Linked DNA regions of Homo sapiens. The protein of the gene in region 1 interacts with the protein of each later gene in a pairwise test. Each region holds a gene or a part of one and is shown on either strand. Other genes may lie near its edges. The genes, in order: ELOVL5, THSD7A, GOSR2 and NINJ2.

What was found.
Region 2: the proteins of ELOVL5 (region 1) and THSD7A interact in binary tests that used the Homo sapiens proteins (3 or more experiments, as listed by UniProt).
Region 3: the proteins of ELOVL5 (region 1) and GOSR2 interact in binary tests that used the Homo sapiens proteins (3 or more experiments, as listed by UniProt).
Region 4: the proteins of ELOVL5 (region 1) and NINJ2 interact in binary tests that used the Homo sapiens proteins (3 or more experiments, as listed by UniProt).

What each region holds. Positions count from the first base shown.
Region 1 is NC_000006.12:53,268,932-53,275,960, reverse strand, and holds part of ELOVL5 (very long chain fatty acid elongase 5), read left to right. Parts: intron 1-699; coding exon 700-871; intron 872-2,616; coding exon 2,617-2,741; intron 2,742-5,233; coding exon 5,234-5,368; intron 5,369-6,690; coding exon 6,691-6,834; coding exon of another isoform or gene 6,835-6,848; 3' UTR 6,849-7,029. UniProt on the Homo sapiens protein: Catalyzes the first and rate-limiting reaction of the four reactions that constitute the long-chain fatty acids elongation cycle.
Region 2 is NC_000007.14:11,829,195-11,836,735, forward strand, and holds the start of THSD7A (thrombospondin type-1 domain-containing protein 7A precursor), read right to left. Parts: upstream 3,005-7,541; 5' UTR 2,753-3,004; coding exon 2,563-2,752; intron 1-2,562.
Region 3 is NC_000017.11:46,926,160-46,933,188, reverse strand, and holds part of GOSR2 (Golgi SNAP receptor complex member 2), read right to left. Parts: intron 3,670-7,029; coding exon 3,605-3,669; intron 2,091-3,604; coding exon 1,982-2,090; intron 1,123-1,981; coding exon 990-1,122; intron 1-989. UniProt on the Homo sapiens protein: Involved in transport of proteins from the cis/medial-Golgi to the trans-Golgi network.
Region 4 is NC_000012.12:563,784-569,462, reverse strand, and holds the end of NINJ2 (ninjurin-2), read left to right. Parts: intron 1-3,284; coding exon 3,285-3,513; exon of another isoform or gene 3,514-3,858; intron 3,859-4,061; coding exon 4,062-4,228; 3' UTR 4,229-4,246; intron 4,247-4,781; 3' UTR 4,782-5,167; downstream 5,168-5,679. UniProt on the Homo sapiens protein: Its role in unclear. In contrast to NINJ1 paralog, does not mediate plasma membrane rupture (cytolysis) downstream of necroptotic and pyroptotic programmed cell death.

The DNA.
Region 1 (7,029 bases):
GTTAACAATTGGCAGGAAAAATCACATGCAGTCAGTATGTTATATTTACACAATCAGGATCATAAGAGCAATGTCTTAAATTTTTAAAATCATTCATCCAAGTACTTTTTTCCGAGTAGTGGTGTTAAAAATAAAATCTGACTTCCACTCATGAGGTTTGTTTTAAATCACAGGCCAACAGTCGCAGCTCAGCATGGGCAGTCATCTCCTTAGAGCACTTGTTTGACATGTTTAATTGGGCAGAGACCTGACACTGCAGGTTCTGATTCCTTTTCTTCTGTGTCACTTATCAGGTCGGCTGCTCCATGTTAGTCCCTGAAATCAATAGCGTTTTTCAGATGGTTTTCCTTTGCTAATGGCTGTGCAGGCTGCTTCCAGAGGGAATAGGCAGACTTCAAGGTTTTGAACCTTGAGCCTCATGTTTTTGTTAGTCTCAAAGAGTGTCAGGGACCCTTTCAAAAATATTCCCTGTAGTCATTTCAAACCCCTCCAGCTGTCCCAACCCAATCATGTTCTTTGGTTAAAGGTACTTGGAGAGTGACCATAGCTCCCAGCCACTGATGGACATTAAGAGCTCTTGGGGCACTCGGGCTTCTCCGAGTTGACATCAGATTTTTGGATATTAGTGAAACATGTCAGAGGTGATATTCCAGAGAAGCCGTGAGGATAAGCCTTAAATCTTTGACCCTTTCCTCTTAGATTATCCGTGTCCTCTGGTGGTACTACTTCTCCAAACTCATAGAATTTATGGACACTTTCTTCTTCATCCTGCGCAAGAACAACCACCAGATCACGGTCCTGCACGTCTACCACCATGCCTCGATGCTGAACATCTGGTGGTTTGTGATGAACTGGGTCCCCTGCGGCCACTGTAAGTATTAGAGACGGGGACTTGGGGAACAGGTGTGAGCAGGGAGGAGAGTTGAAACTAAGGCTTTCAGAAAAGGTGCTGTTTCTGTAAATGTCTAGGTCAGGCTTTCAGCTTTGTGTTCAAGTTGCTTTTAATGATAGTTTATGTACCTATGCACACAAAACCCTTTTTTAGTTAAGTGAACTTTCTGTGCTGATTGGGTGAGATGAGGGAGATACCACTGGGGACATATTAAGGAATAGGTACAATATTCTCTGACTTAGAGGGCAACTTTCCAGGTTCTTTCTGGTCCTTCTGTATGGTGTGGAAGGTTTGAGACGGGCAGGTGAGGAAAATAGGATCACACTGTTGCATGAGTACCAGGGAGCAAGGCTCATTTTGAAATACAGCTTTAGCTGTCATGCATTAGGAAGTCTCCACATGTTCTAACAACCCTCATATTCCCTGAAGCATGGTGATCAAGGTGTCTTCTATAACGAGCACCAAAACTTGATATAAATTTTCTAAGGTTGTACTTGGTTTTTGGAAAGCTTGTAGTCCAAAGTTTCTTATAATTTTCAGAGATTGCCACCTTCAGATTCAGCCTGGGAGTTTTAGCAAATGTCTCAGTCAAAAGTCCCGTCATCCAAACACTGAAGAATTTAACTGAGAACCTATGGGTCTATTTATGGATATTTTTTTCTCTGGGATAGCACTGCCCTTGATTACCTGAGCCTGCTAAGATTCACAGTGTCATGGAATTCCAGAGCTAGGAAAAAAAAAAAGCTTTCCAAATACAGATCCTTTGGGTTTGGGAGGAAACTAAGACCACAGAAAGGTGGGTAGAGTTGGGGCTTTCTGCTCTTCCTCCCACTGTCAGAGCTCATGATGGTGGATTAACTGACCTAACTTTCTAATAGAAACAGCCCCTCCCTACATTTGAAGAGTGCTTTAAATTTTCAGAGAACTTTCAGGAGGACAGATTTAATCAGCTCCACTTGGGCCATGAGAAACTGAACCAGGGAATGGATGTGATGTGTCCAAAGTCAAAAGCCAGTTCCTATCATAGCCAGGAGTAGAAACTTCCCTAACACCAGGCTGTGCACCTGCAACTGCACAGGGAAAAGCCAGATGGCTTGGTTTGGTTGCTGACTGTTGGGGAGGAGGACAGAGTCTGGAAAAAGAACTAGTGGTCCTACTGAACATTGAAAATGATGTGATAAGATGGCTCTTTTATCTCTAAGGAGCTAGACTCTTGACTCTATTATTAATAAAAATGTATGACCTCAGCACTGCAGTCCTGGGAAATAATTAGAAGATGGCTTCAGAGACCTCTCCACACCCCAGCAAATGTATAGAAACAACCATTTTTGAGCATATTGCCCATCAGCTGTCTTCCACAGCCTTCAGAGAGCATATTTGGGCAGTTGTGCATGTAAAGAAAAACAGCTGTCTCTGAGAGTGGGTGGGCATCTGCAGCAAAGCCTGTAGGTGCTGGGATGGCGTCGTGGCTTCAGTGTCAGATGCCCCTCTAGCAGCTACAGCTGACCCCTGGGCTCGGAGCCTCCTGGTGGCTGCCTGCCCAAGTGGAAATTGAATTCTCATTACACATCCATGCATTGCTTGCTGTTGCAGTGTTTGTCAGCTCCGTTGGAAGTCATCTCTCTTTCTGATTCAAAAAGAATCTTGTATTTTTTTTTTTTTTACCACCTGTTCTGTTTAAAACACTAATACATTCTCCTTCCCAAATCCCTCTGTTCCTGCAGCTTATTTTGGTGCCACACTTAATAGCTTCATCCACGTCCTCATGTACTCTTACTATGGTTTGTCGTCAGTCCCTTCCATGCGTCCATACCTCTGGTGGAAGAAGTACATCACTCAGGGGCAGCTGGTGAGTGACTTGGCCTCTTTCCCCAGGACTTACTTCCTGGTGGATACAGACCTCTTCCTGGCTTTAGTGTTATGTAATAGCATCTAAGATGCCCCTTCTCCACCCTTTTTCATTTGATGTAATTAAATTCCTTGAAGTGGGTAGATTAGGGAATTTTCTTGTTTTGAACTGATAGTGAACTGTGACCATGGGCATACAGCTAGTTGAATTGTACAAAGAGGTCTAGAATCTAATTTGCCAACTTCAAGTTCAGCTCTTCTGAGTTTTTGCACATAAGCACATATGCATGTATGTGTGTATATGTGTGTGTGTTTTCTAATTATAGTCCAAAATCCAAAATGAAAATTGTATGTTTCCAGGGGTTTTAGAAGGAGCTGGAGAGTAGTATGGAGTCCAGGGTATGTGTAGCCCATTACTAGGCAGCAAGGATATTTGTTTGGCAGGTATGGATGACCCCTCAGCCCCCATGCAGTGGAGCACCTGTTGGTGAGGATGGCAGCTGTTTGCTTCAGTTAACAGCTCCTCCCCTGGTTTACTGCCAGGGCCAGGCCACTTCACCTGATACTTCTCACCATCCTTGATTAAGCCTTCTGCATTCATCAGTATATTATAGGTAACCTCTTTCTCTCCTCTCATGAATTCGTCTATGAACTAATTAATACTACTACTGCTCATATTAAACACTGACATTTCCTAAGTGTTTAGCACATGTTGGGTACTCATACTAAGTACATGATTTTACATAGATTGTTCCAGTAGCCTGATTTCATATTATTGTCCCCAAGCCAGGCACAGTGGCTCACGCCTGTAATCACAGCATTTTGGGAGGTCGAGGCAGGAGGATCACTTGAGGCCAGGAGTTTAAGACCAGCCTGGGGAACATAGTGAGGCCCTGTCTCTACCAAAAAGAAAAACACATATTATTGTCCCTATTTTATAGATGACACTGAGTCAATAGGCCAAAGCTAGCTGACTGAGGGGTGTGGACATTAAACCCTTTGCCCTGTCCTTGCATTATTAACACATTTTTCTAAACACACCAAGCTGATTCAGATCCCTTCAAGTCAATTATGATTTTTCAATATTTAAAAATAACAATCTGAAAAAAAAGTCTGAGAAAATCTTAGAGACTGAAGTGTTTGATGTTTCATTTTCACCTCTCTGCCAGCTGCTATATGGTCCTTGTTAATTTTTTCTCACCCACCTGTGAAAAAGGAAAATTGTTGATTAACCTCCTTGTTATACTTGAGGAGAAATGATGCAGAAATTGATTTATACCACAGTTTTGGGTCTGGCGGAAGCAGAATTTAAAAGAACAGACTGGCAAAGTTGGTCTCCCGTTAGGCTCTGTACTTTGAGGTGGAAGATTAAACCTACCCAGGTTGTCAGGATTTATTTTAAGCACCACTCCTAGTTATTCCTCAGTCTGCAGTACTAACCTTAAAAAAGAGAAGGCAAACAGCCAGGCACAGTGGGTCATGGCTTGGAGTCCCGGTCACTCGGGAGGCTGAGGTAGAAGGATCTCTTGAACCTGAGAGTTTGAGGCCACCCTGGGCAACATAGACCCTGTCTCAAAAATTAAAAACAAAAAACTCTACATAGAAACATTGGAGCTGCTAGAAATACAGTGTGCAGAGCCTAGCCCTTTTTTTGGGGGGAGGGGCAGGGGTTGAGCTGGAGTCTCGCTCTGTCACCAGGCTGGAGTGCAGTGGCGCGATCTCGGTTCGCTGCAACCTCTGCCTCCTGGGTTCAAGCAATTCTCCTATCTCAGCCTCCCAAGTAGCTGGGACTACCGGCGTGTGCCACCATACCCAGCTAATTTTTGTATTTTTAGTAGAGACAGGGTTTCACCATTTTGGCCAGGATGGTGTTGATCTCTTGACCTTGTGATCCGCCAGCCTCGGCCTCCCAAAGTGCTGGAATTACAGGCGTGAGCCACCACGCCCGGCCTGAGCCTAGCCCTTTTTAAAACATCTTTCCACCATTTCTCTAACCAGTTCACATGCGTTTCAAGGTTTATTCATCAAAATTAATCAATGCACTTAGTGTTGTTTGCCAGTAAAGGTTTAAATCTACTCATCAGCCTTCACCAAACCAGAAGCGTCCATGGATAAGGAGTTGGAAGGATGTCCAGCCAGGTGGCACATCCTGCAGTGATGTTATCAGTGCCCTTTCAACATACACACTTGCTCTTCCTTCTCAAAAAATAAAAACAAAAAGTCTTGGATGTCTCTATAGTGTATCCTTGAAATTTGGAGAAGGTAGTTTAAATAGCTTGGAGGGCAGAGGAAGAATATATATAAGACAAACACACCTAGAGTTTAGGATAAGTATAGTGTATGTGTTGTGTTCATGAAGTGACTGCTGTACCTGCAGCAAGGGTAGTAAGTGTTAATTCAGAAATTTAGGTGATGCTGGTTAAAAAGTCTGCCTGGTGTGGGGCCTCGTCCATGCACTGTCCCTGTTCAGCTGCATCCCCTCTGTTCCCCTAGCTTCAGTTTGTGCTGACAATCATCCAGACCAGCTGCGGGGTCATCTGGCCGTGCACATTCCCTCTTGGTTGGTTGTATTTCCAGATTGGATACATGATTTCCCTGATTGCTCTCTTCACAAACTTCTACATTCAGGTAAATCTCACCCTTCTCTGGGACTTGGAATCTGGGGCCTTTACCAACAAAGGCCCTCATCTATTTACTTAATGGGCATGTGGAGCCCTTGCTGGGTGACAGGCTCTGGCCTCTAATGGAGTCACTATGACAAGAGCAGCCCCTGCCTCTGGGGGGCTCACAGCTCACTGGAAGACACTAGAATCCTGTTCTAGAGCCTGGGTGAGGAAGTCTTGGGATTCCCCTGGGAAATGGAAAACTGTGCAGCAGGACCCTATGTTGCTTCCCTCTGACCTGCAGCAGAGACGTGAGAGGTGATTTCAATCAGAAATCTCTCAGTTCACTACCCTGAACGTCATGGCCAAATGAAATTTCAGAAGAGATTTTTATCACAGTCCTCAGATATGGAGATCTGCTTTTTTGTCCCAGCTTTCTTATACATTCAGTCTTCAGGTGTGAGGATTCGGTTCATTCCTAAGCATATGATGTGGTGATGTAGGTCTTTGCTCACAGAAAGATCCATTTAGGGCAGATAATTTCCAGTGGAGCCTGACCACGTTGCAGCCACTGCTGATTCTCCTGCCATGCGTCACCCCCCAGATGACATGTGTCCTGCCTTTGTTGCCAGTGCCTGGTAGCCATAAGGCCTGCTGATCTGGGCAAAACACGGAGGTCAGGAGCAAGGGCAGAGGCTGCAAGTCCCGAGGCTCAGACATTTGTCCTTTCTTCTTCTGTGCCCACAAGCACCTGTGTGTGGCATGTTGAGTTTCAGTGGAAGTCATATACTTCTGGGCTTCATAGTTTATGGCTGCACTGTGGGACATACACCAGCTACAAGGAAGGTGAAAGGATAGGACCCGATGAAGCTGAAATCACATTTATTCTAACTACTTATAGCAGCATAGCACTTTGTTCATGAAGGCTGAGATAGTCGCCGAGGCAGTGAGGAACTTTTGAAGACGAACAAGGGATGTGGGTGTCAAGAGAGCTGCTGCCAGGTGGGAAAGACCAATTTGGCCACATAACCCCTGTCATCTGCCATCCAGATACTAAAAGGCAAAGCAAAGTGTAAATTGAATTTTCTATGTGACATTTTAAATAGTATTTCTGTTGCAGCCTGTGATTCAGTTAACTTACCTCAGGCTAAGCCTCAAAAAAAAAAAGGAAGAATGATTGAAACCAGTGACAAAAGATTTAGTCAATGAGGACTTGACCTCAGGAGTTTCTCCTTGATAAGATTTGATCTTGAAACTAGGCCTAGTGTTAGGGATGCAATTCTCAGTAAAGTTCCCTATAAAGAAAACTGTGGTCATTTGGTTCTCATCTGCCCTTACACATTTTAGACCTACAACAAGAAAGGGGCCTCCCGAAGGAAAGACCACCTGAAGGACCACCAGAATGGGTCCATGGCTGCTGTGAATGGACACACCAACAGCTTTTCACCCCTGGAAAACAATGTGAAGCCAAGGAAGCTGCGGAAGGATTGAAGTCAAAGAATTGAAACCCTCCAAACCACGTCATCTGATTGTAAGCACAATATGAGTTGTGCCCCAATGCTCGTTAACAGCTGCTGTAACTAGTCTGGCCTACAATAGTGTGATTCATGTAGGACTTCTTTCATCAATTCAAAACCCCTAGAAAACGTATACAGATTATATAAGTAGGGATAAGATTTCTAACAT
Region 2 (7,541 bases), on another chromosome or scaffold:
AAATTTTCCACTGTGCATGTAGGTCAGGACCCCTAATCTGTGCATTGTTCAAGGGTCAACTTTATATACCCTTATTTGTTGTATATATGTATTTATGTGTGTATTTATAATATATGTATCTGACATATGCATTCATATATATGAAGCCCTTTAGGGGTTAAAAAGGCCCTTAGATATCATTTTATCTATTTAATGAGTATTACAAAATAGGAAGCCAAGAACCAAAGTCATTAATGACTTTACCAAAGTTCTACAGCATGTTAGTAACATACACAGTTTGAGTTCCTGTCCCAGATCTTCATCCAGTGTAACAACTTTCACTACATCATTTTAATTCAATAATCTCACCATTAATATGATTCTCTATAATCCTCTGTACCAAGACCAAGCTTACCCCATTGGAACAGATATTTTGGAGTATGTCACCTCTTTTCTCTTCCAATTCCCTTCTTGCCTCTTTATTTTCATCAAGTGATACACACATAGTGATTCTGTAACTTCTAAATTTTCATTTATGGTATATCTTTTTTCTTTAAATATTCTCTAGTTCTTTTGAGAACTACGTTCAACTCCTTTACAGATATATTAAAGTCTCCTTTCCCTTTGGTAAAAAAAAAAAAATAAAGAAGTCATTATTTTGCTTTCCAATTGAATGAACTATTTTTTTTTTTTACCAAACCAAGGATCACCAGTCAAGAAATATCTTTAACATCCTCATCACACTAGCTTACATTTGCATACAGCTTTGAAGTTTACCAATCACTTTCTCATAACTCATGTGATTTTCACACACTGCAGATAGGCAGAAGAAGGTGTCATCACATTTACATGCAGTTGAGAAAACTAAGGGTCAAAATTTAAGTGAACTGCCAAAATTCCTACAGCTAGCAAGAGCTAGGACTGGCACTGGAATCAAGGTCTCCATATCATTGTTTCTGAGAGCTTCCCACTATTTTAAACTGTTTATTGGCTTGTGTTCCTACCATGACATTTATGATGACATATATTGACACCTCAGATGCTGTACAGTGAATGTTGGCTGGGCTCTTTTCCATCTGAATTATTGCTTGGCTCTTGTTACTTTGCTAGTATAAATTTCAACTAGGCAACTACTATTTCATCCTACACTGACTTACCTAAGAAGCTCTCCCCAAGCATCCATATGATACCATTTAATGGTAAATTATAATTTGATTAATGTTTGTCATTATGAATGTGCTTTTAACAAGTAAAACCCTAGCTTACGCTAAATTAGAGATCTTCAAATCTTCGTTTCAAATTGAAGTAAATTAATTTTATTTCATTTGAATTCATTACTCAACTGATCTTCAAACTTAAGGTGTTAGCAAGAATAATCTTGCTTTTTAAAATGTGTATATGTTTCATGTAATCTTCTAAGACAAATTGTGTACTTTGACTTTAAATAAATTTCTGTTTAATCTCCTCACTAAATTTCTGGATAGCTGCAACTTCTTTAAAAATTCCAGATATCGATAGTGATGCAATTGTAGAGTAGACTGAGCTGTCTCTTCAGTAGTGGTGCAGAGATGGGCTGAAGCAGGAAAAGACACTCACTCCCTGAAACCTGTTTGCAACCCCATGACGAATACATACTTTCCCTTTCAACTACAACATTCTCTTAATGTTTGGCATGACCAAGTTATTCTTAAATTACCCCCTAGCTCTAAGCAACAGGAATAATCTTTTCCCATTTTATTCCTATGAACATGTGAAGTTTCAGGTCCCCTAAGGAATTCTCAATGTTTTTTTAATGCAGAGAGAAAGCGAACCCGCAGAAAAGGGGTTGGTAATTCCTCACTCCGTATTGTTTTCCTGCCTGTCACGGCCCCCGCCAGAAACTCCAAGCATTTTGCCAATGGGTAATGATGGGCAGTTAGTAGCTGCTTTTGTTGGGTGGTTGAAAAACAAAGCAAAACAATTCTCAAGGAAGGAAGAGAAAGTTTGAACCCAGACATCCTAAAAGTTGTACACTTTAAAAATCCTCCGACTCGCTAGTTAATAATTGAGTTTTCAGTCTTTCCCTGAAGGCTCACTGGAGCCCCATTTGCCTTTAATTGTTGGAACCGCCCTCACTTGGCTTGTTTCTGAGGTGTCCCACATATCACAAAGCTAAAGTTAACAAATTCAACTCTATATCCACAAATGTCATGACAGTGAGCATATTGCTTTGCCTAAAGAATAAAGACTGAGACTAAACTCTTTGCTTGTTCTTTGCTAGAAATCTGTTTGAGAAACTCCTAGTAGAATGAAAATCCAGGGGTTAAAAATAATGCACTTCATCATGGAAGTGCGCGTTGCCCTCATTACAGAGCTGCGAGAGAAATATTCCAGCTACTCACTGTTGCCTCTTAGTTGTTATGCTTTTCTTTCCTAATTGCATCGGACATGACCTATTTGCTTCCTAAGAAATCATACTTTTTACCTTAGGATACCAGCATAACCAAGCCATCCAAAAGCACCGGGGTCCCTACAGAAGCCCACCAGCTCCTTAATGTGGCCCCAGATGTGAAGATGGGGAAAGGGTAACTCCGTCCCACTTACCAGTCTTCCACAGATAGAGGGTGGGCGCCTCCGCCTCGCCCTGCGCCGCAGCCCTGCCGGCGCCCGGGCGTAGCAGCAGCAGCAGGAGCAGCGGCAGCGGCAGCGGCAGCGGCAGCAGCTGCAGGACGCCCCGGCGCGGCCCCGCAGCGCCCCGGCTCCCGGACGCCCAGCGCCTGGCTTGCAGCCCCATGCCGCCTGCAGCCACTCCAGGGTCCAGAGCCGTAGCACGCTCGGCAGGGAATTTTTCTCCGCTCTTGGAACGTCTTTTCAAAGAGTACAGAAAGCAAAGCTCTTTCCTGCTATTGTTCGCTTCAGATGAGAAGGAGGGAGAGCGCGTCTAACACCAGGGAACAATAGCGTCCGCGGTGGTGGCCGTGGCCGCTGCCGCCGCCGCCGCCGCCTCTGGCGGGGATGCTGCTGCCGCTGCCATTCCTCGCAGAATGGCAGGTCCCGGCGGCTCCGGAGGCAACTGTCCTCAGGGGGCCCCAGCTGACTGAGCAGGTCTGCTAGGTCTGGGAGGCAGCGCAGCCCCCGCCAGCTGGAGGGGGAGGAGGGGGGCGTGAGCCCAAAGGAGCAGAGGGGGCTGGAGGCAGAGGGAGGCGAGAGCGCGAGGGCGAGAAAGGGGGCGAGCAAAGGGGAGAGGGGCCAGCCAGGCGACACCCACCTCCGACATACCCGCCTAAAGAACTCCGGTGCACATGGTGCGATGAAATATGTTTGGAAGGATGCACCAATAAAAAGAATCATCACCCGGCAGATTTCAGAATGACAAATAACAGGCATTGATATTCACTGTCATCCAAGGAGTCAAATGCTAGATCTAGTGGCATGCTATTCTTAGTACGTATTTACACAAAGCATCAGTGTTTATTATCTATTTTTAAGCCATGGCTTCTGAATTACTTTGTGTGGGGAGCAGTATTTGAGATCAGGTGTGAAAACACGAGAGCAGAAATGTTGACTTGTCAAAATGCACTTAAACCCTTCTTTAAATGTTGTTTTTAACTTAATCTATTATCAATAAAAATATGAGCAATATTGATGCTCTGTGACAAATTAAATTGTCTTTTAATAGCCTTTAAAACTGAATTAGTGTTAATGAGTATTTGCAATGCTACCTAATTACATAAATACAATTGTACAAAAAAAAAACCCTTAAAATTAAAATTATATTTCAGGTATAGAGTTCTGTCCCTTCATCTACTTCTTTCCCTCAAAAATATGCTACTTCTAAGTATTCAGATAGTTGTGAGTCAAACTGAGTCAGTAATGCTGTCTGGATATCTTGGAATTAGTAAATTCTTCATTTAAAATTTCCCTGACACCGATTTTTCTTAACTCTTACTGTAGCAAAATGCCTGTCGCAATCTAAATAAGGAACCACATGTGTTTGCATCTTTTGTCCTTTGTGTTTTCACTTTCTTCTACCAGTAGTAATAGAAGAATGTGTGTGAAGTCGGATAATGCTTTCCCCTTTCTCCTTCTCCCTTTAGCTAATAATAATATATTTTATTATTAATTCATTTCACAGTAAAGCTAAAATAGTAGGCATTTAACCATTAAAAATTCAGCAAACGGAAAGCCAAAGAAAACTACTATCCCATCAGCAATTTTCAGCCAAATAAAATAAAATTTTAAAAGCAGGAAAACTACTTTTTATGAATTTACTCCAACATAGCTACCCTAGAGTTTAAGATGAGGAAGCTACTCTTTCTGAAAGAGGAAACCTTCCATAAGGCTCCCTTGGGACCCTTGTCATTTTGCAAAGCCTTCCAGACACAGCCCCTCTGCATGCATTAGATTAAAAGCGGGTTTGATCAAATAATTCCCAGGTCCTGCCTGTTTAAGTATTCTGACATCAGAGGAAATTAGCTACGTTGAAGGTTGCAAATTTGGTCTTTGTTTACTTTCCGCTCTGTTAGGCCTCTAAGAAGGAATTAAAAGCTCAGAGAGCCCGAGCGCTGTGAGTCTGTGATTAGGAGAGATAAGCTAGTGTGGCTTACTATTTCTTCACTCGTGAAAAACAGGCAACAATCAAAAGATTATAGGTTGATAAGGAATAAAAAGGAAGCCTGATCTTAACTAATGTATGGTTCCCTGAAGGATCACTTCTTTTGACAGTTACACCACAGAAGGAAATGGGACCTGCTATTGCTTCCTGGGTTCTGTCGTTTCAGGAAAATTTCCATGTCCACTCCACAAGGAATCATTTTCCCATCCTTTCTGCTTGTATTTCTCAGCTACTGTTAGTGCCCTAAACCTTGAAATCCTCTAACTCTGGCACAGGAAGTATTTCAAACTGGACATACTCTGCTAACAGCAGCCATTCTACGCATTCGTGGGAAGCGCCAATCAATTCACCAAGTGGGAATTCATTATATAACAGAGGACAGAGAGTCTGAGGAATTAAGTTAATGTGCAAGGTCATTTACCTAGCCCTTCAAAAAGCCATCCGACACTATACTTAATAGCTTATTGTCAAAAGAAATTTTAAGATTCTGACCTTTATATTTACCCATGGTGGTATAATAATAACTCAACTTGTCAAGAGTGTAAACATCATAGCTACAAATTCAAGCATTATACGGGGTCAATTTCTAGGTTCCAATTTGCTGCCATTTACAATACACAATTATGGTGATATGTTCTGCAGTACTGTTTCAAAATAGCCAACATTTGGTTTCCTTCTTTCAATTTCAACGTACACAAGGCCTAGGAGTCACACACACACATGCACATACACAAACACACACAATCATCAGCAAAGATATCTCTGAACAAGGTTAGAGAATCCAAGTCATATAAACATTTGTCTCCACACCTGCCACACATTTGTTCATAACAATGTCATTATTGCACTTGAGGACAAAAATGTATGGGTCTCTGAGGAGACAAAAGTGATGTATATATCCTGATATGTGTTCCTTTGTGAAAGGTATAGTGTCTAGGTAGATAAATCCTATCAATAAAACTGATAGATGGCAAGAGATAGCAAGACATAGCAATATTTGTTTCCTAGAATATGACATAAATAATAATACACAAATGTTTAATGACATGATGTCAAAATTTAGTCATGAGAAGTCTCAAGGATGCAGATTAAATTGACCATCTGTACAGCCTGCCATGAAGTAAATCGTTCGTCATTTTTCATGGAGAACTGTTCAAATATTAATGAGCCAGTGCGATAAAAGTTCTCCAAACCAATGAATGACAAATGCAAAGCATATTTTTTTAATATTTAGAAATGAAAAAATTCTAAACTTATCACCTCTCATGTGATAGGTGTCTTTATTCTGCCTCTATTAATTTTGCTATCATTTCTAAACTCCAGAGGTAAGGATGTGAACATACCTATACACATCTGTTTTCTCTTTTATTAGAACATAAACATATAAATATATATTACAACTCATGAGACTCATGACAATGACTTTTAGTCATTAGTATCAATATTTTAAAACAATTATGAAATATTCAGTTCCTTGATGGAAAGGGAAACAACTTTTAACATCAACAGTTTTATAATTATAAAAAAGTGAAGAAATATAGTTATTTATTGATAGTATTACATATGGAAATATCTAAAGATGTCCATTTTGAAATAAAAACTTAAAAATAATTCTCCACATAAATGCATTTTGCATCCTAAAAAATAAAAAATACCCAAAGGAATTCTATTTGTGCAACCTCTAGGTGTCACACTTGACCAAGATTTGGATGAGACAAAATTTATTTTGGGCTTCTTTCTATCCTCCCCTTCCCTTGACACCCACCCACCAAGTTTATAGGTACACCTCATTTTACTGTGCTTTACACATATTTTTGTTTGTTTGTTTGTTTAACAAATTTAAGGCTTGTGACAACTTGGCATTGAGCAAGTCTATCAACATAATTTTTCCCACATGAAGTGCTCACTTCATGTCTCTATCACATTTTGGTAATTTTCATAATTTTTCAAATGTTGTCACTATTATTCTATCTGTTATGGTGATCTGTGATCTGTGATCTTTGATGTTACTGTTGTAATTATTTTGGGGCACCACATACTGTGCCCATATAAAATAGCAAACTAAATTAATGAATGTTGTTGTGTATTCTGACTTCTCCACCAACAGGCTGTTTCCCTATCTCTCTCTCGTTGGGCCTCCCTTTTCCCTGAGACATATGAATATTGAAATTAGGCTAATTAATAACCCTACAATGGCTTTTAAGCGTTCAAGTGAAAAGAAGAATTACAAGTCTCTCATTTTCAATCAAAAGCCTAAAATTATTAAGCTTATTAGGGAAGGCATATCAAAAGCCAAGATAGGCCAAAAGCTAGGCCTCTTGCACCAGTTAGCCAAGTTGTGAATGCAAAGGAAAGTTCTTGAAGAAAATTAAAAGTACTACTTTAGCAAATACACATATGAAAGGAAGCAAAACAGCCTTATTGCTGATATGGAGAAAGCTTTAGTGATCTAGATAGAAGATCAAATCAGCCACAACATTCCTTTAAACCAAAGCCTAATCCAGAGAAAGGCCCCAATTCTATTTAAACCTGTAAAGACCAAATGACATGAGGAAGCTGCAGAAAAGTGTGAAGCTGGCAGAGACTGTTTCATAAGGTTTAAGGAAAGAAGCCATGTTCACAACAAAATTGCAAGGTGAAGCAGCTGTAGCAAGCTACTCAGAAGATGTAGCTAAGATCACTGATGAAAGTAGCCACATTAAACAATTTTCAACATAAACAGATGAAAGTACCTACATTAAACAATCAATTTTCAACATAAATGAAAAAAGCCTTCTATTAGAGGAATATGCCATCTAAAATTTTAATAGCTAGAGAGGAGAAGTCAATGCTTGGCTTTAAAATTTCAAAGGACAGGTTGACTCTCTTGTTAGGGTCTAATTCAGCTGGTGATTTTAAGTTGAAGCCAATGCTTACTTACCATTCTGAAAATCCTAGGGCCCTCCAGAATGTACTAAATCTACTCTGC
Region 3 (7,029 bases), on another chromosome or scaffold:
CCCAAGCGATCATCCTTGGCCTAAAAAAGGCCTGAATACTACATTATAACGATCTAAAATCCAAACATCTTTTAGTGTGTCTTATAGTTCATTAAATTTTTGAACTGTTAAACACTGTAACTTGACTGCTTAGTCTGGGGAAGCAAAAACTATGTTGGCACAGCCTGAAACACTTGGGAAAATTTATTGCAAAGCAAGGATGCAGCATTGAGGGTTAAACATCTACAAAGCAGGAAATGATGTGAATTTTAACAACTGGCTTAGAAAGCTAACATCTCTTTAGAAAATAATCCTCTGTAAAAAAACAAAATACAAAAAGCCAAAGCACACTTCATTTAGTGGAATATATTATGCAGGACACAGAAAAGGCCAGTATGTTCTACAGCCATGTGCAGGAAATGATCTGGTTAAGACTAAAGGGCAGGGACAATGGGTTCTGAAAAATCAAACATGCAAACCAACACACTTTCAGACAGACTCAGGCAAGCAGTCCATCTAACCCTAAACATCTGTTAACAAATTCCTCCAAATTGCTGCTCAGACTAGGGGCAAAAACATCTTAATGCACCTGACACTGGAGCCACACACATACTCGGCACAATGGCAACTGCCCGCAGGCAGCTTTGAAATGCTGCCTTCTCTACAAATGGCCTAAGTTCTAATCATCTGTCTCTATCTGATCAGAAAAACGTTTCCACCATGTGAACTTCCACCTTTCTGTCTCAGACCAGCCCAACCAGGTAATTTTCACCTCTGCCTATTCCCCTTCAATTTAACTGCTTCCTCTTCAGGTTTTTGTCTTAGAAAAAGGGATTCTCTGTCTAGGTCTAGTCTCTGTGGCAATGCACAAAGTTCCTGTCATTTCCAGTTGGTTTCCTCATCATCAGTCTTCTTCAGACACCCCCAAAACAGATGGCGCTCAGAGATCTGAACTCCAGCCCCCACGATCTGTCAAGTGCAGGCCGACCCTCACCACGGGCCTGGCTTACGTTAGTGGTGAAGGTTCGAGACAGAAGCTCTTCTCGCTGTCTCTCCTGCTGCTCCCTTGCATGGCGCCGATGCTGGAAGTTTCTGAGCGCAGTCTGCAGGTGCTGGACATCATACTTTAACTGGTCAACCCGACTGGAATTGATGGAGAGAGAGATTAAATTCCAGGAACTCAGGGCAGCAGAATCTGAGGGGGCCAGGCTTTGTACTGAGGAAAGACGGCGTTTCCTTACTTCTCCCTACACCACCCCACACTATACCCCCTCACCACAAGATCTAATTTTGATCAACGATGTTGAAAGTCAAGAAGAAACTTGTGGTTAAAGTGAGATGGTAGCACACAAGATTCCAGCAGCTTGACTTCAGAATCTGTTGCTCTGATTCTGGATGCATGACAGAGAACAGGGGACAGGAAGCAGGCTCACTGACCTCTTCTTGACCTTCTATGGATTATATGGCTCTCCTGGAAGAAGCCCAAGGGCATCTTTGAGGTAAAGCATCCACAAAGTTTCATAAAACTTTTGGAAACAGGCGCTGGGGGTGGAGGTGGCAAGGGTGGTTTCATTTTAATTTCATGCTGGAGTATCAAACATTAGATCAGCATTTCATTATGGGTGGACTGATTGAAGTGATTTTTCATTTCAACCCAAGAAGAACCCAGCAGGAACCAAAGAGCAGAACAAAACTCCATGGCAACATTAGGCTTCAGGTGGCTATGGATCTAGTCAAAAAACAGAACTGGAGGCAAAATTTCAAAATGACACCAAAGAGGTAAGGGGTCACAAGGTTTCTGAGTCACAAACCTCACAGGCTATTTATTTTGAGCGGCATCACTCAGATAGAATTGTGCCCTTTGAGGGGGCTTTTTCTTTGCATAGTCATAGTTTTTCAACATGTACGTTGGTTTTCAGAATATTCTATCACCTCCCCCAGGGAGAAAAGCCTGTCTTGATGGGCCTGGAGTATCAGAGCCATGTCAGAGGTCAGCACTTACAGTCTGGCATTTTGCCTTTTGTTAGGGGGCTCCTTGCTGGACAAAATCTCCAGACGTTCTAGACGGCTGAATATCTGGTCTATGCTTGCTTGGATTTCGTTTTCTACTACTGTACAAAAAAGAAAAAAGAATAATTGCTGGAAAAGAGATAGTGAACTTAAATTACAATGATAAATCACAGATTTTTTTTTCAATATCCAATAAACTAGAACTACATATTTCAAAAGGAGAAAAATGTATACACTAATGAATAACAGAAAAAATTCAAGTTAGGCCGTAAATGTTGTTTTGAAAAAAGTACATGTATATAGCTGTTAATGACATAACAATGCCAATTTTTTAAAAAAGCTGAAGGTAAATCTGTAGAAATAAATTTCCTACCTTTAGAAAATAAACATGCAAAGGTTGTCCAAATAAATACTTTAAGCTAAATTTTCTGATATAGGTCTCTTTTCCTTTGGGATTCTCAGACGTGGATTATAAATACCTAGAAAAAGGCTGCCAATTGAATTCCCTATAGTAATGAGTTTTTTTTTTTTTATTTAAAAAAAAAAAAGCATAAAGGAAGGGGAAGATTAGTATGTGAAACATACAGAGAAGAGTTCCCTTAAGGCTTTCTTCCCTTAAAGCTTTCTGTAAGAATGGGTGGGCTGAGCAATGTTGACGTCCCCAAAATAAACCAAATATCAATAGGAAAGGCCCAGGAAAGAATCCACAGAGGTAAAGAGATACGATAAATACGGTCATTTTCCCTATCCCTTTCGATAAGACAGTCAAAATGACCTCTTTCCATTTCTAATCATGTAACAATGAGATTGCTGAGAAGGCAAACAAAGTCCGATGAACAAAGAAGCTAAACTGTGCACAAAAGAAAGCATCCAGACTGCTTCTTGCCCCATAAAGAAGTGACAGCAGTGACACTGCCCCTTCCTAGCCCTTTGTGCCCACAGTGAACAAAGACAGTTGAGATTAGAACAAGGTGGGGCACAGAACCAAGAACAGAGCTGCTTTTGAAGCTGCGAAAGGAGACATGAGAGAACAGGAGGAATGGGTCCTGAGGGAGCCCAGCAGTGGGGTGGGTAGGCAGCCCCCGCAGGTGGTGTCCATATGACCAACTCAGAAAAAGGACCTTTCCTCAGAATAGAAAAAAAAAAAAAAAATGAAAAAAAACAAAAAACCAGCATGCTTCTCAAAAGAAACCATGCTGTGGGAACTAAACTAATTAATATTGCTGTTCGTTTCTGAATAATCCTCCTAAAAAGCCACAGTTCTCAGCTCAGAAGAAATGGCCAATTCCAGTTAAACATCTCTGAATTTTTATGGAGTACATTCCTCTAAGGACTAGGTAATTAGATTAAGATAGATGGAGGCAAGCGCTTCCATTCCCATAGGGCCATGTCAGGTTGAGTGGAGGGGTAATGGGGGATAAGACTTGTGGGATTCCAAAGGGCACACTCAGGGAAATCAGTGACTTTGCCATAGGGTTTTTCTGTCCACCCTAACAACAAAACTCATTCCACGCTGAATCATTAAGCCCCCAAGGCAGAGTGCAGTCAGGAAGCCCAGCCCATTAGCACCCTGTCATCAGAGAAAGGACTCTGGTCTCCACAGTTAATTACTCACTGTGCACAGACTGCTTGTCTGCCGTCTCCAGGCGTCCCATGCAAGACTGGATCTCGTGGACCTGCCTATCAAAGGAAGAGGGAGGAAATGAGTGAGACAGGAGTAATCAACAGCGCTTCAGTCAGGAAAGACAATTTTTCTGATGCCAACATGTAACTGATTTAAATCGACAGCATCACTGAACTGTAAAATTTGTATGTGGCACTTTAGGTCCCACGTTTTGGCATGGTTTCTAATATCTTAACTACTAACAATAACACTGATAGGCAGATTATGGGTGCTTACCATATCCAAGATACTCTGCCAAATCAATAACCCTATGAGGAAAGTACCATTATCATCCTCATTTTATAAAAACTGAAGCCCAGAAAGGTTATGTAACTTGTTCAAGATCACACAGCAAGTGATAAACCTCAAACTGAACCCGGCCAATCCTACTTTCTGTTCTACGACCTAATGTGCTAAGCACTGGCCTGTACCAGGAAGAGTCAAAGGGCGAGGGAGATATAATCCTTGTCCTTGAGAAACAACATAATGAGGAATGACAGGCTAAACAGACATGAACAAGCCCTGGGAAGATTCACGAGAAAAGCAATACACATAAGTATAAACAAACAGAAAGAGGGGCAGCTCTGCACAGTGGTGTCACAGGCAAGCAGACAGAGGGGTGGGGCTGAGAAAGAGAAACCAGGTAAGTTATGTGGATGGAAAGAGTTCTGAGCATCGCTGTGAAGAAGGGAGACATCATTTGGTGAAGGAAGATAGAAGAAAATGATATGCAAAAATTCATTCAAGACATGTGGATTACAAGTAGGGTGGGCTGCTTGAAAGGGAATCGGGTTGGGGGAGAGGATGCTGAAGTGACTCACTGGAGGAAACCATTCAGAGGAAGACCCTGAGACAGGGACCTTCTGTTTGGTAAACATCCTTCTCCGACAATATCAAGGAACGAAGGAACTGCCATCTCATTTGGAAATGCAACACTGTACCCTGGATCTGGGTAACACTCTCTGGAGGCTTCCCACGGTCTGGCCAAGGTCATCCTTAAGACCCCCTTCCTAATGGTCCTCCATGATCAGTCCTCGGGATACTGCTTATGCTGGCCCCACCATCCACTTCCCGGTGCTCACGGTGGAGATTTCCCCAAGTTAGGGCCCACATGAAGGGGGCCTGCTGGACTCTCACATCATCCCCAACGCTGGAGGAAAGGTCAGCAACCATTCTGCATCGTGAGCAATGCAAACCAGGACCCCAAATCTACCAATGCCAGCCAGGCACCCAACTTTGGCTTCAGCTTGTGCCCAGTCTTTTCCAGGGCTTCCCTATGGCCTCCAGATATGCCCTCGGGCACCAAAAGAAGCTGGGTGAGCTGTCAAATGACTCCCCAGGGTGCTCCTAGGCAAGACCTGTGGCCCTGAGAAGCAACTAGAAATCACTGCTAGAGTCCGAGACCAGGCCGTTGCTTCCGGAAAGTAAGTCTGGGATATTGTGGGATGATGCGGGGGTGTGGAGGTATGGGGGCTGATGTAGGAATGCAGCCTGAGGTAGCCGACACCTGAAGCAGGGCAACCAAGGGAACAGGTACAGGGGACCGGAGGGTAACGGGGACAGAAAGGAGAATTAGGACTCTAAGGAAGTCCTGACGCAGGCTGTGAGGTAAATTTTCAATGCTGATTTAACAGAAAAATCTGAAAGTTGGTAATATGATCAACACGAACAGTGACATAATAAAAAGGGGGGAGGTAAAGAATAGCCAAGACCACTCTGAAGAAGGAGGGGGAGGAATGACTTGTCCCACCTGCCATTATGACTTACAAAGCAGTAACAATGGAAACAATATGGCGGCAGTGCAGGTGCAGACAGACAAGGAAAGGCAAACCCTACAGCTGGCCCAAGAGGAAAGAAACAGCCTAGACACAGCCCCACGTTATTTGGGAGCTTTTGAAAGAAGGGACTACAATAAATGCCAACAGCTCCGGTTTGTTACCCGTACAGAAAAAGGCCACCTCAGGTAACACATAAAAATAAACTCAAGCTCACTTAAAACCCAAATGGAAAAAGCAGAGCAGCTTTCAAACTTTCTGAAGAAAATACAGGTGTGCATAAATGACCTCGGGTTACAGAAGATTTCTTAAATAAGACAAAATCCAAAAACTACCCACCCCCACAAAACCCACAAACCACAAAGAAAAAGATGGATACATCTGACAACATGAAAACAAAAAACTTCTGTACACCAAAGCCACAAAATAAACAAATGAATGGCACAGACTGGAGGGTATCTGCAGCAGATAACAAAGGATTGACGTGCAGAAAATATATAAAGAATTGTTACAAATCAATACAAAAAGTCAAACAAGGCATTTTTTTTAAATGAAAAAAGGGCAAATGACAGAAAAGAAAACCCAAATGGTCAATCAATATACAAAATGACACTCAACTAGGAAAACACAAATGAAAAGCAATGAGATCACATTTCTTCAGCCCATCAAACTGACAAATATTTTAAAGTTTGGGGACATATGCATTAATAAGGAAACAGGGAAACTAGAACTCTCATACCCAGCTGGTAGGATTATAAATTGGTAAAACACTTTAAATGCTTTCTGACAATAACTAGTAGAATAAAGCATGTGTCCATGCTATGACCCAGCAGTTTGAGGAATGTGTCCTAGAGAGGTTCTGGCATACCCTGAGGAGATGTACATGGCAGGACGTTCATCAAAGCACTTTTGTACAGGCCCATAATCCACTGACTTTTCCCATCAAATCTCTATTTGCTTTGAACCAATCAGAGACAATGTGGCCAATAATACAATTCCAGCGGCTACATTTCATGCTAAGAAAACATAAATATGAAACAACAAAGCAAGTATGAATGGCAAGGTGGGAACTACTAATATGCCAAGTGCAAAATCTGTCTCAAACTGAACTGGGAATTCTAACACAACATAACACACTGGAAGTCCATAAGAAACAGGTGATACACAAGCATGACTTGGGAGCGTGGACATGAGGAAAAAGAAGTCTTAGCCCTCTCTAGCATGGGGTCCATGGTGGGCTTGGGTGATAATATAACAAAGCAGAGAAATAGTAGCAAATAAGCCAGGGTCATTGTAGCCGTCTTTAAAAAAGGTTTACAGAAGATCTAGGAAGAATTTTTTAATGGAAGTGCTTTTTAAAAGTTCATGAAACTACTCACCGCCCCCCACCACCCCATAACATCCACTTTGCATCCAGGCTGCCTCTGACCATGATGAACATGAAAACGCTGTGTAACCTACACAGCATCATGTAAGTTTGTTGTTAACTTTACTTAAAAGTAGTGGCAACAATCTGGTCATTTTCATTTCACTCACTTTGCCTTTACATTTCGCTCATTAAAGGGCAAAATCTATAAAGGAAAAACATGGTCTTGAGATAAG
Region 4 (5,679 bases), on another chromosome or scaffold:
GGGGTGGCACAGCCATGGGGCAGGGAGGCCAGGGGGCACAGTTGAACCTGGGCAGAGACACTTTGAATTTGGGTGCAGGGGGTGAGACTCTCTTGCCTAATGAGTGCTCTTGGAGACCGAGGACAAACCTTCACCAAATGGGCTAAGACCACAGGTTGCAGCCTTGGGGCTGACGGCGACCATGGGCCTTTGTGAAGTGTTGGCCCTGGGATCCCTGGCCCTAACCAACCATGCCAGCTGGCCCTAGACAAGCCAGCCTTGCTTGAACTGGATTTCCAAAGGCCCTGAACGCCGTGTGTGGCCTCCCAAGTCCATGCAGGTCCTCATTTACCCTCCATCCCTACCTCCTCCAACCTCACTGGCTGCCCCCAGCACCAGCTGAAACCCCGGCCCCAGCAAAATCAAACACGAAGGAAGATGGGAGAGATAGTGAGCACTCCATTCCTTTCGTGCCTATGGCCTTTTTTCTTATTTCTGTGGGCCCTGGGCCCCAGCCTGATTTTGGTGGCTGTCAAAAGGAGTTTGCCAGGGCCTGTTGTGAGCAGCCTGTGGCCCAGTGCTTACCCGGGGGGCGGGGGGGGGGGGGTGTCCTCACAGCCCCAAGCACCGCCTGGCATGTACAGTCAATCTATTGAATGAATGCTACCCGCTGGTCTCCATTCTACTCTCCCAGAGAAAGTGTTTAAATTGCTCCACTGGCCAAAGTGCACACTCCTGATTACCCTCTGTGAGTCCTGCCCCGTCCAGAAGTTGAGGACACTCGGAATCTCAATAATGAACAACCCAGGTGCAGGGAACTGCCCCGTGTAGAAAGCTGATGGCCTGGAGTGTGGTCAGAGTGAAAGAGCCACTCCTATATGTTTGATCCTCCAATGACTGGTCCACAGAGTCAGAGAGGGGCAGCCTGCGGGGCACAGGCTGCCAGGGTGGATTCCATCAGAGCAGGTGCTGTTAGCACCCATGACCACCCTGTGCCTCTTGAATGTGTCTGTGTGTGTGCACCCTCCTGGCAAACAGAGCAAAGGGCCAGGAGCTTGGAAAGGAAGTGAGAAGAGCAGGGTGGAGACGTGGGGCTGAGTTTTGAAGGCAAACGTTAGGAGAAGGACTGGGGAAGAGAGGCTCCCTTCTGTTGGCCTAGGAGAGGATTGGTCCAATCTGTAGCCAGGCATGTGGATTAGAGCTGGATCTCCAAAGACGAGTGCCCAAGACCATATTTTAGGATAAGAAAATTAAACTTCTATTTATATTGAATTTTATGTAATCCTTTCAAATGTTTCTACTTTTGCATATTTTACTATATATATAATTAGTCCAATAAAAATATGTATAGTTGATAATGGAAGAATGTACATATATTGAGGATGCATGGCCAAAACAGTTTTTAATGCTGAGATTACACTATCAAGAAAGTCTGGAGACTACTGCATTTCAGAGTTTTGTTTTTGTTTTTGTTTTGAGACAAGAGTCTTACTCTGCCACCCAGGCTAGAGTGCAATGGTGCGATCTCTGCTCACTGCAACCTCTGCCTCCTGGTTCAAGTGATTCTCCTGCCTCAGCCTCCTGAGTAGCTGGGATTACAGGCGTGTGACACCATACCCAGCTGATTTTTTTGTATTTTTAGTAGAGACGGGATTTTGCCATGTTGGCCAGGCTAGTCTCAAACTCCTGACCTCAAATGATCCCCCTGCCTTGGCCTCTCAAAGTGCTGGAGTTACGGGCATGAGCCACTGCACCCAGCCTCATTTCGGGGTATCCTAAGGGCTCATAGAATCCAAAGGTTCTGATAGATAGGTAAATCAGTTAGCCTATGTGTAAATCAACTGTCCTCTGTGTAAATCCCTGAGGTACAGAGAAGTGAAGTGACTTGCTGGGGCTGCACGAAGTACAAGGAACATTCCAGACCCTCTGAGACCTGCCTATCCAATCATCCACGCATCCATCCATCCACCCACCAATCTCTCCATCCATCCATCCATCCCTTCATCCATGAAGCTTTATTTTATACTTCAAAACAAAATCAAATGTAAATTATGCTTCAATAAATCCTAGCCAAAAAAATTAAAAACAAATTACGAGTGTTTAACTGGTATGCATCACTGTGCATATATAGGCACGCATCCATCTATCCATCCATCTGTCCCCACGCAGCAGGTATCTGTCCTGTCGTGGTGATCTGCTGGGTCATCTTCCCTACCTCCAGGCCATAGCATCCTTCAATCCATCCGTCTCTCCCCACTCTGCAGGTATCTGTCCTGTCATGGTGATCTGCTGGGTCATCTTCCCTACCTCCAGGCCGTAGCATCCTTCAGAGTCCTCCATTCCTTCCTGTCTCACCTTGCTCCACTTCAGTTCCTTTTCACCCTGATCCTAAATCAATACTATAACTTTTAAATGACTCTCCCTGCTTCTAGCCCTTCCTGGCCCAGTCTGTTCCAAGCACCACTGCTAAATCAATCTTCCAAGTACTCTTGAGTGACTGCAGATTGCCCTTGGTCATGGCGCCCAGTCTGAAATTCTTGGCCCAACCCAGAGGCCCACAGCATATGCCCTGTATTGTGATTCTGTCTTTTGGAGTTAGTGGCTTCTGGAGAAGCTTTAGTAAATTATGCTTCAATAAATCCTAGCCAAAAGTAATAATTAAAATGATGTGAGTGTTTAACTAGTATGCATTACTGTGTGTATACACTCATGCATGCATGCATGTGTATGCTGAGAGCCTGTGTCTGACAGCGTGTGTGCCTGAGCAGGGCGGCAGCTCCAGTGCTCCTGAGGGTTGGAAATCCAGCCGATGATCAGCTGCTGAGCTGTGCACCCTGCCTTGGGGGCCACAGCATTATGCGAGAGGAGGTGCCTTTCTCTATTTCACCCAAGCCTCCAAGCTCTTTTTATTGTCTTCTCAGGTGCTTTCCTCTCAGAGGAAAAGAACACAGCCCAAAGCTGAGGCCTGGCCCAGGTAAAATAGTGAATAGGGTGAGGAAGGTGCATTTTACCAGCAGCAGAGAACCCTCCCGGCTTTCTCCAGCCAGATGTGTGAAGGTGTGAGGGAAGGGGTGACTCTCCAGGAAGTATCAACTGCAACAGAATGTCATTTCAGAGTGCAGAGGTCCTTATGGGTTTTCTCGTCCAACCCTTCATTTTATCAGGCCATGAAACTAAGGGTGTCATTTGCCCTGAGCTTCCCATCTGGATTGGAAAGAGCTTTAAAACCTCTCTCCTCTCTCCCACCTCTCAACTGCTTCCCTTCCAGAGCTCCCCTTGGTAAGTCTGTGCTTTCTCCCCTACAGCCTGGAAGCTCCGACCCCAGGAGCCAGCCCATCAACCTGAACCATTACGCCACCAAGAAGAGCGTGGCGGAGAGCATGCTGGACGTGGCCCTGTTCATGTCCAACGCCATGCGGCTGAAGGCGGTGCTGGAGCAGGGACCATCCTCTCACTACTACACCACCCTGGTCACCCTCATCAGCCTCTCTCTGCTCCTGCAGGTGGTCATCGGTGTCCTGCTCGTGGTCATTGGTGAGGAGCCCAGCCTGCAGTCAGACCTTCTGCCTCGGCACCCGTGGCTGGCAGAAAGGCCCCACGTGTCCCCTGGGCCACCCTGCATTGGCACAGGCAGCTTTGCAACCACACGCTGACCTGCAGTGAGCCCTCCGCTAACAGAGGCCCAAAGACCAACTTCCACCCCGCGAGGGCAGGCGCCCTGTCCTGTCTCCTGGTATCCCATGGAGCAGACCCTCCGCAGTACCTGCTGAATGACTGCGCCAGCACCTCGCTAACTGCTAACTCACTCACTCGCTCACCGCTTCTCCATGAGCACTCGTCCCCACGCTTACAGGACCCAGCTTAAGTTCCCAAATCCTGGTGGGATGAAGCACACTAGGGTGCCCCATTGTACTGGTTGGCGAGGGCAGAGGCATCTCAGCCCGATGACGACCACCTCCCTTGATTTCTGCCACATGGGTTTCTGAAGGGCCCCTCTCTCCAAACTCTGGTGGGTGTTGTGGGGGCAGCTCCGTGCTGTGGCCCCGTCTCTGACCCTTTCCCCCCACTCCACTTCCCTGCAGCACGGCTGAACCTGAATGAGGTAGAAAAGCAGTGGCGACTCAACCAGCTCAACAACGCAGCCACCATCTTGGTCTTCTTCACTGTGGTCATCAATGTTTTCATTACAGCCTTCGGGGCACATAAAACAGGGTTCCTGGCTGCCAGGGCCTCAAGGAATCCTCTCTGAATGCAGCCTGGGACCCAGGTGAGGGAGGATGGAGGAACCCCAGCTCCAGGGACTCCCCAGGTGGCCCTTCTCTCTCCTCTGGGGCTTTGGGGCAAGAAACAGATCCCTTGCCAAACAAAGGGGGAAGGCCTGTAGCTCCGAGAGCAAGGAGAGGATCTGCAAGAGCCTGGCCTCAGCGAGGCTTGCACAAAGCCCCACTGCTGTGTTAATGGCTCTCTGCTCTCAGGCTCAGGTTTTCCCACGGTCTGGGACAGGGTGGAGGCGATGCCATTAGTGGTTGACTCTGCCCCTCCGGCAAGAGGAAAGGTGGAGATGGGGAATTTCTCCCTGCCATTGTCTAGCAGCTCTTGCTACTGACTGTGGTCCATGGGTCAGCAGCATCCACAAACCACCCAGGAACTTGCTGGAAATGCAGAATCTCAGGCTCTGCTCGAGCACGTGCTACAGGCACGTGCATGAGTAACGTGGCCAGGTGCATCCTGGGCATGCTGAAGGTTGAGGGGCATTGATCTGGCCTGCCATCCTCATTGCCTCTTCTCTGCTTCCTCAACAGGTTCTGGGCCTGGAACTTCTGCCTCCTTCCTCCGTGATCTGCCAGGCTCGTGGGCACTTTCCACAGCCCAGGAGAGCTTCTGAAAGGACAGTATAGCTGCCCTTGCTCCCTACCCACAGCACCTGAGTTAAAAAGTGATTTTTATGTTATTGGTCTAAGGGACTTCCATCTTGGTCTGAAGTCCTGAGCTCAGACGCAGGTACTGCCAGCCATACCTTCCTGGTAGCATCTGCTGGACCTAAGTAAGGCATGTCTGTCTAAGGCCAAGTCTGCCCGGCTTAAGGATGCTGGTTCTGACTCTACCCCACTGCTTCCTTCTGCTCCAGGCCTCAATTTTCCCTTCTTGTAAAATGGAATCTATATCTATAAAGGTTTCTTCAAATCCACTCTTGAGTCCACTTACTTGTCTAGTCCTGCAGGCTCAGGCATCCAGGCTGGTCTCCATCTGTGCCTTGGAGAGGGCTCAAGAGAGCAAACCCCAGACCTGGAGGGTGGGAAGGCTTTTAAATTACTTCCTCCTCTGTGGGTTCTGCTCGGAGCCAATGTTCCTGGCCCAGATGTCTTGCGCTTATCGTCATCTGCCCCATGAACTGTAGATTAGTCCATTGCAGGTGGATGCACATATGCACAATCTTCTCCACGAACCTGCTGTAAGCTATTCTGGCTTTCAGTCTCAGCTTCCCTTAGGCATGTGTTTAAGGACTGCAAACTCATTTTGATCTTTGCCTGGGCCAAATATAACGAGGAAGGTAAATCTGTAAAGCATTAGCAAAGCATTGCCAACTCAGAAACAGAAATGATTTTTAGAAGGTCTGCCAGTTTAGAAGCAGCCACTCGTTGGCTTCTCTCCACTGCTCACCAAACCGTTCTGGCCCTATATCTAGCCTTCTCCACCCAG